Linked DNA regions of Homo sapiens. The main gene of each other region encodes a partner of the protein of the gene in region 2 in a complex. Each region holds a gene or a part of one and is shown on either strand. Other genes may lie near its edges.

What was found.
Region 1: the proteins of NKIRAS1 (region 2) and RALGAPA2 are in contact, whole or in part, in a crystal structure (PDB 9QU1), measured with the Homo sapiens proteins. Residues at the interface, in NP_001364280.1 of Homo sapiens: Lys6, Glu22, Leu24, Leu25, Tyr26, Glu34, Met39, Glu40, Asp41, Val42, Tyr43, Met44, Ala45, Ser46, Val47, Glu48, Lys54, Gln56, His58, Tyr60, His74, Tyr75, Ser77, Phe78, Lys108, Thr162; in NP_065076.2 of Homo sapiens: Pro20, Lys21, Tyr51, Ser52, Gln53, Phe56, Tyr59, Glu60, Ile63, Arg99, Phe102, Arg103, Trp104, His105, Tyr106, Gln107, Ser108, Lys185, Ile186, Tyr187, Pro188, Glu189.

Annotation. Positions count from the first base shown.
Region 1 is NC_000020.11:20,390,930-20,394,678, forward strand, and holds part of RALGAPA2 (ral GTPase-activating protein subunit alpha-2), read right to left. Parts: exon of another isoform or gene 2,582-3,749; intron 2,325-2,581; coding exon of another isoform or gene 2,170-2,324; 3' UTR 1-2,169.
Region 2 is NC_000003.12:23,914,934-23,918,682, reverse strand, and holds the start of NKIRAS1 (NF-kappa-B inhibitor-interacting Ras-like protein 1), read left to right. Parts: upstream 1-1,692; 5' UTR 1,693-1,899; exon of another isoform or gene 1,900-2,728; intron 2,729-3,069; exon of another isoform or gene 3,070-3,710; intron 3,711-3,749. Other genes in the region: RPL15 (large ribosomal subunit protein eL15), read right to left, coding at 107-243, 652-823. UniProt on the Homo sapiens protein: Atypical Ras-like protein that acts as a potent regulator of NF-kappa-B activity by preventing the degradation of NF-kappa-B inhibitor beta (NFKBIB) by most signals, explaining why NFKBIB is more resistant to degradation.

The DNA of each region.
Region 1 (3,749 bases), on a different chromosome or scaffold from region 2:
TATTTGCTGCCTACAATTGAATTTCCCACCCCAAGGTAGGGATCGCTGGTTCGTGAAAGCAAAATGAAATCATGGAGCAGAAGTCCAGGAGAGTTCAATACGATTTCTAAATCCTGACATATCTTTTCTACTAAAGCCAGCAATTCCGCAACAGGAGTTTCTAGAGCCTGAAGATGAAACGTTCTCCCAGAGGCGACCTGCTGGTAGAGACCTACAGGGGACTCTGGAGCCTAGGAGCATGCGATGGCCTTCCCAACAGGAGTGAGGTAAACAGGAGACAGGAGCAGCTCAACAGCAGGATCAAGCCTGAGTGATGGTGGCCAAGCTATGCTGCCCAGATGTCTGGAATCATTTAAAATAAAGGGGCATTTGCTGACACCACAGAAAATGCCAGGACTTGCAGTCACTCTTCACATTGCCCTTCAGCCCCCGTGAGTATCCTGGGCCCTTCCCAAAACGGCCCAGGGGCCAGAAGCTTCCTTCCACTTTGGGGCACCCTCATTCTCTTCTGTTCAGGTGGTTCTCAAGGTGCTCCTGTCAGTGGGCCTGGCCTGCAATCCCCTATAAAGCAGAAAAGCAAATTCTCGCCAGGATGAGCAGGCCCGCCCTTCCGACAGGAACGACTGGCTCAGCTCTTTCTCATTTGTCCCAAGAGTGAGTCTGGCTCCTGAGTCTCCCCGTTTTCCCTACAAAGGCCAGGTTCCAGCCAAACCAGCTCCATGGCAAATGGAAAAAACTGGCTCCTCAGTGAAAATGGCCGTTCTGATGGGGTGAGAGCCTCAGAAGGCTTCTTCAGGCCTGGGTGGCCAAGCAGCCTGAAGGTAACAAGTGTGTGCAAGGGCAGAGGGCAGAGGGCACAGGAAGGTGGGGAGGCCTCCCGCACAGGGCCCGCCTTTCCCAGGACCAGCCCACCCATCATAAGCCCTGAGTTAGGGGCTGCGTCTCTCGTGCTGCTGTCCCTTCCCACTGCAGGGCGTTGCTCTGTACCTGGCCGCTGTGAGAACAAAGCCTGCGCAGTGGCGATGGACTCTGGTAAGCTTCTTGGATTTACTTCCCAAGTGAAGTGCGGGGTGGAGCAAACCTCTAGCTCTGAGGCAGGTCAAGGGTCCAGGACACAGCCTGGGGCCTGCGCCAGCAGCTCTTCGCTGCTGACTGATTTCTCTGCTGCAGGACGGGCAAGGCCCACCCAGGGCGCCCCAGCAGGAGAGGGCTCACCATTGCTTCTCTTTTCATTCATTCATTCATTTTGTTTTTAAGAAAAAAAAACAACAACAACAAAAAAACAGGTCTAATAAGCCTTCCTTGGAGCCAAATGGGCAAAAATGTAAGGATTAAATCCCTCGCTTGGAATCGGCTACCAAAAGCTTTGTGTGACAAGAAACATTTCTGAGGCCTGTGTGAGGCCTCTCTGGGCAACAGACAGGAGCAGCAAAGTTGCAGCGTGAGGCTTTTGGAGGCACAAGGCCATTCGGGGGGTACCCGTCTCAGCCTAGCGCCTGAAGCCGGCATGCGCCTTTTGTGTGGATGTGGTCTGTGTTGTTTTGAGCCTTGGGACACTTCCTGTCCTGCAGGAACTTATGCAAGGACAGGACCCTGTATTTCTGGAATCTTCTGAGTGTTCTAAGATAGGGGCATCACTGTCATGACCTGAAGCGCCTCTGCGTGGTGAGGAGAGCCTCTGCTTAGTTAGCGGGCGTCAGGTACCATGTGGGAAAACACTGGACAACTGAGGTAAAACTTCTCCTGGGCAAAAGACCCCGGGGAAAGCCAATTTCCATGATGATGAAATTTTTGAGTAAACCATAAATCCTAACATAAAAGGAACTAGCAAAATCAATGCAGATCAGATTCCTCAATTAGACAATTGTTTTGCCAGCCCCTTTGTGAATCATGCTTGGGTTCATAAATGAGAAGAAACAACTTGGGGTGCAGAAGCAAGCTGCCCTCTGCCCCCTCCCTGAAAGCGCAGAATCTTTTCCTGCTGTCATCTGCCCAGAGCAGCCACACCAGTGCCCACGTGTCAGTGGGTTCATCTCTGGTTTTTGGTGACTTTTTCTTTTCTTCTTTGGAAGTCCAAGGTTTGTGAGGTTTCAGGACAAGATGATACAGCCTAGTTTGAGTCCCATCTGAGACACGGTAGTGGGATTCACCATGGGCTTCAGAAGTCCACTAATGGGAAGACCTGCTGAGGGCACTAGTACAGCAACGAAATTTCCTGGAGATTCTGGGTTTAGTGGCTCGGGGCAGAGGCAGGAGAGGGTGTTCTGTCTCCTCCTCACTCAGGGGCTCTTCGAGGTCAGCACTCAGACTGGAGGCCAGGGCCCCTGCAAAGGAAGCAGAGAACTGCTAAGTCATGGAGGCAACGGCGGCTCTACGGCCACACATTTCAGGGAGGATCTGTGGCACTCAGAAGGGAGGGAAACTCCCAGGAGAAGGGTCTGGTGACCTCCTCCCACGCTATGCCGGCAAAGATGTTTGTTGAATGAATAAACACATGAATGTCTTTCTTCTTATTCTTTGCCCTGGGCTTTTCTGCAGCATAAAAGAAGCTATGAATCTTGTGAAATTAATTCAGACTTACTGTCCAATTCATAAGTAAAGAATGAAGAGAAAAGGCATCTGGTCACAGTGAAAGGGAGGAAGAGCCACTGAAGAAGCAGTGGCTGGAGTCAATGGAAAAGCCCGTGAAACTTCAGAGGCCGCTCTGCAGATCCCTGGCGGTGTTCCTGGAATCTCCACGTGTTTACATATCGATATTCTACACAATGAGTTACAACTCGATTATTCCCCAAAGGGTCTAAGACTAGAGGTCAGTCCTAAATTGCTTGTCTGAATGAGTCCAGATGAGCATACAGCTGTTCATCACTGGAGGGAAAAGGAATAAAATTAAAACCTGCACATCTGCACCCCCCGCTTCCCCAGGGCTGCTGTCGGTGTGCTCAGAGGAATACAAGAATGCCTGCTGCAACACCAAGCCACTGTTGCGGGTGGAGCTGGGTCTCCCCTAGCACCGTTCTGCGAGCGAGAGGATCATTTCATCACCCTTCCCCTCGTAGTGTATTTTTAAACCCTGTTGTATTATGCCCCAAGTTTCCTGCATGACCTCTGCTGGGAACCAACCTCAGAAGCAGAGTTTCCACATCTTCCTCCCTGCGTGATTCACTTGCAGGGCTTTGGCCTTTGAAATTATTATTATTATTGGCATTTGAAATTAATTTAAGTCAGTTATTTTATTCACAGACGCATCTTTTTTCATTCTCTGACCTTCCCTTATTGTTTCTAGGAGGAGTTTCCAAAATCAATACTTGCAAACGTGCTTGGACCTATGGAGGCAGCCTGGCTCAGGGTGTCCTGAAATTCAGTACTTTCAGAGTCCAGGGGCTTCATGGTTGCCTCCCTTCTTCTAGGCTCAGTCAGGTCGGGCATACAGAGAAGGCTCACTATTCTCATCTTTAAAACAGGCTGCAGCCGGGCGCGGTGGGCGGATCGCTTCAGCCCAGGAGTTCCAGACCAGCCTGGGAAACACAGTGAAACCCCGTCTCTACAAAAACATTGCAAAACTTATCCAGGCATGGTGGTGCGCACCTGTAGTCCCAGCTACTTGGGAGGCTGAGGTGAGAGGATTTTGAGCCTGGGAGGTCAAGGCTGCAGTGATGGCTTCACTGCACTCCAGCTTAGGTGACAAAGTGAGACCCAGTCTCAAAAAAAAAACACCACACATGAAAAACCTCAGAACACAAAAACAGGCT
Region 2 (3,749 bases):
TATATACGAGACAGCTCACCTAAGTACAATCAGAAAAGTTGCTTAATCTCTCTCTCCCACCATCCCCAGGCAGTATTCAATATAACTGCTACTCAAAACCATTTACCTCTGCAACGGACTGAAGGCTTCGAGCAAACTTTAGCTGGTTAACACCATGATGGACAGGCTTGCCGTAAGTTGCACCCTTAGGAACTGGGCGTTTTCGGCCACCACGGCGAACACGAATCCTATATATAACGTAACCTACACACAAACACACACGAAATTAGTGATTTTATAGGAAGCCGTAAGGCTTAAGACTCAATGGCTTGTCACTAATACTCCACCAAAAATACTTCAACAGTAAGTTAATGCTATCTAATAGAAAAAAATAAAACACATCCCAGTCTTTTTCAATGCACCTTAGGCTACTCACACAGGGAGGCACACTGTTTATTTTGCTTTAGTCTGAACTCATTCAGATTTGTAACCTTTGACACACTTGCCACTTTAGACAACAGTGCATACAGTAACTGACCAGTGTTGCTAGCTTTTTTCTGCCAAAGCCCTATGCGAAGAAAGACACTGAGGCAGCAGTGTCTTCCTAACAGCTGGTTTCCAACTTTTCTCGAATATAATTTTATCCAAGCATCCACGCAGTCGATCACGTACCTTGCTTGGCCTTGTAGCCCAGTCGGCGCGCTTTATCAGGCCGGGTGGGGCGGGGAGCCCTGTGGAGAGCAGAGAGCTGGCGGTACTGCCAGCAGCGGACCCTCAGAAGAAAGCGCATGACATCAGACTGCTTCTTTCTCCATAGCTCCTGGATGTACTTGTATGCACCCATCTTGGCTTACCTGTGAAATCAAACTGTGTATTAAATATCATCCGCTTTAAGTACAATAAGACGACTGTATCCGTCCATCTTAGTTCCCCAACAAAAACAAGGAAACCGCCGGGAATGAAAATGGCTCTGCACCAACTGCCGGGGACAGCTAGCCCAACCCCCACCACTGCGCCCACGGAGCCGCGTTCAGTCACTTCCGCAACCCCAGCACAGAGCGGTGCTCGGCACGTTTTGGTGGGGCGAATTAACAGAACCAGAACTGAGCACCAAGGGGGCGGGTGGCTGCGGCAGGCGGCGTCCCCAAGGAGGACCTGAAAGGAGATGCCGCTGACATCACAGGACAAGGTACTGCTGCGGCCACCGAGGATTAACTCTCGAGGAAAATGCATCTACCCCACCCAACCAGCAGCCTCACTTTAGGCTGCCTTGTCCCGGGCGCCCCATTCGTCAGCCCCACGCCTCCTCCAGGATCCGGGCCCAGCTCGAATTCGCGCCGCCATCACATCTTCGCTCAACCCGCCCCGGGGGCCGCCTCTCCACCCCTTTGCTGTCCCGCATCCTGACCAAACTCTGGCCGCACAGGAGGGAGACCTATCTCCGAGGACGCAGGGTCCCCGGACCTGGATGGCTGAAGAGGAAGACGATCAAAGGCGGATGGAAGAGCAAAGATCCTCAACGCAGCCTACCTGATGGCTGCCGCCAGACGGAAAGGAAAGAGCTGTACTCCCACAATGCCTTTTGGGCTCCTCCCCCACCTCAGCCACCCTCTTTCCGGTGGAAAGCTGCGGCCTCCCAGAGCGTCATGGGACATGTAGTTCCGGCATCGCGCCTGGTGGCGGAGTTCTGCCGAGTGGGGCGCCGCGGCCGCTATTGTCCCGCCCCCTGCTCCGCAAGATTCGAGCCTGAGCGGCCTGGGCGTCTCGAGAGGTGAGAGAGTTGGCGGCGAGGTCTCGGCGGCTAAGCGAGCGTCGGCGACTGTCTCTCCGCGAGAGGAGGCAAGTTGGGGTCCAGGCTCCAAAGCCGGTGGCCGCGTACCGCGGTGGAGCCGCTGTCTTTGAGGTCTGAGGAGAGAACAGGTTTGTTTCACGCACCGCGGGCTCTCCCCCTGCGGAGTCTCTGCGTCTCCGCGTCTCCGCGCTGCGCTGTCCCTCTCTGGCCACCGCACGACGGGCGCAGAAATCTGGGCCCCAGAGCTGCGCTGAGAGATCCCCCGACGCTTCCCCAGCCTCCCAGGGAGGCCTTCGCGGAGTCGGGGCGTCGCGGGTCGGGGCGCTCGCTGTGTCCCTTCAGCTCCAGACTGCGTGAAGCTCCTCCAGCAGGCCCCAGCGCCCAGGGATTTTGTCCTAAAAAAGGGTCATGGAGTGGGTGGATTGCGGGCGGCCCGGCGCTTTTTCTGCATACGGATTTCGTCCCAAATTTGCTAACATGAGAACCACAGTTTTTCAGAAGAGCAGAATGTTTATTTGCCAAGACCTGTTTGGCAGGTGTGAATGTTTTAGAGAAGAAATGCCGAGAAAATGCTGGCATTTTGCGTTGCGGGTTTTTTTTTAAATTGAGAAATAGGTTACTGGCTTACTTTGTTTCTCCAGAATATTTTCACTTGGCTTTAATTTAAGTCATGTGGCTTTAATTTCCTTCCAGATTATGCGTTCAGATGTGGCAAAGGCTTAAGAGAATCATTATCTCTTAATCGTAGCGGTTTTGATTATCTTTTTTCCCACATCATATTTTTCTTTCTTTCTTTTTAAATCACAGCTTTACGTTTTTAAGAGTCTCTATCTGGTTCATTGATTGATTCAACAAATATTTATTAAGTGTCTAATATGTGCCAGGCATAGTTGCTGGGGATGCAGCAGGAAACAACGCAGAATTTTTGGCCTTCTTGGAAATGGGCAGTAAGCAGAAGTAAGCTGTGTTTTGGGTTTGGTGGTAAATGCTAAGGAAAAAAGATAAGGGGAGGGAAGTGATGAGGGAGTGTTAGCGGCTGAGGGTTGCAATTTGGAATGGAGTGTCCAGGTTAAGTCTTTGAGAGAAGGTAACATTTAAGAAAGGACTTCAAGGATAGGAGTCTGGGAGTAAGAGTAGGGGTCTGATTCAGGCAGAGGGAGAAGAGCCATGACTGGAGCATGCAAGATTAATAGAGGAACAGCAGGGAAGCAGTGTGGCTGAAATTCACAGTAGGGGAAAGTGGGAAATGACGTCGGAGAGGTGAAGGTTCTCACATGGACTTTGGATTTCATTGGCAGATTTTGAACAGAAGGATGACTTCATATGGCGTACATTTTAAAAAGATAACTCGGATTGCTCCTTTTGAGGCTAAAAGGAGAGAAAAAATGGAAGCAGAGAGACTGCTTAGGAAATTGTGTTAGTCTTCCATTGCTCCTGTAACAAATTTCAGCAACTTTGTTGGTTAATAATACAAATTTACCGTCTTTTAGTTTGTACATCAGACTAGGTCTGTAAATCTGTAAATATCACCAAGCTAAAACCAAAGTCAGTAGGGCTGTGTTCCTTCTGGAGGTACTAGGGGAGAGTACATTTATTTCCTTGGCTTTTCCACCTTATGAAGCCTGCCTGAATTCCTTGGCTCCTGACTGCTTCCTTCATCTTCACAGCCAGCAAAGGAGCATCTTCCAATTACACCTTCTGTCCTCTCCAGCACTCCTGTGTGTCTCTTATAAAGACACTTGTGATTACACTGGGCCCACCTAGATAATTCAGGATAATATCTTCGTATGGAAGTTCTTAATTTAATCACCCCCGCAAAATTCTTGTATGAGTATGTAAAGTAAACATATTCACAGGTTTGGGGGATTACGATATCTTTGAGAGACCAGGTGAGAGAACATGGTGCCTCACCCAGACCACTTCAGTAGTGATGAAAATGGTAAGTAGTGCAGCCCTGTATGTATTTCAAAGGTGAGGA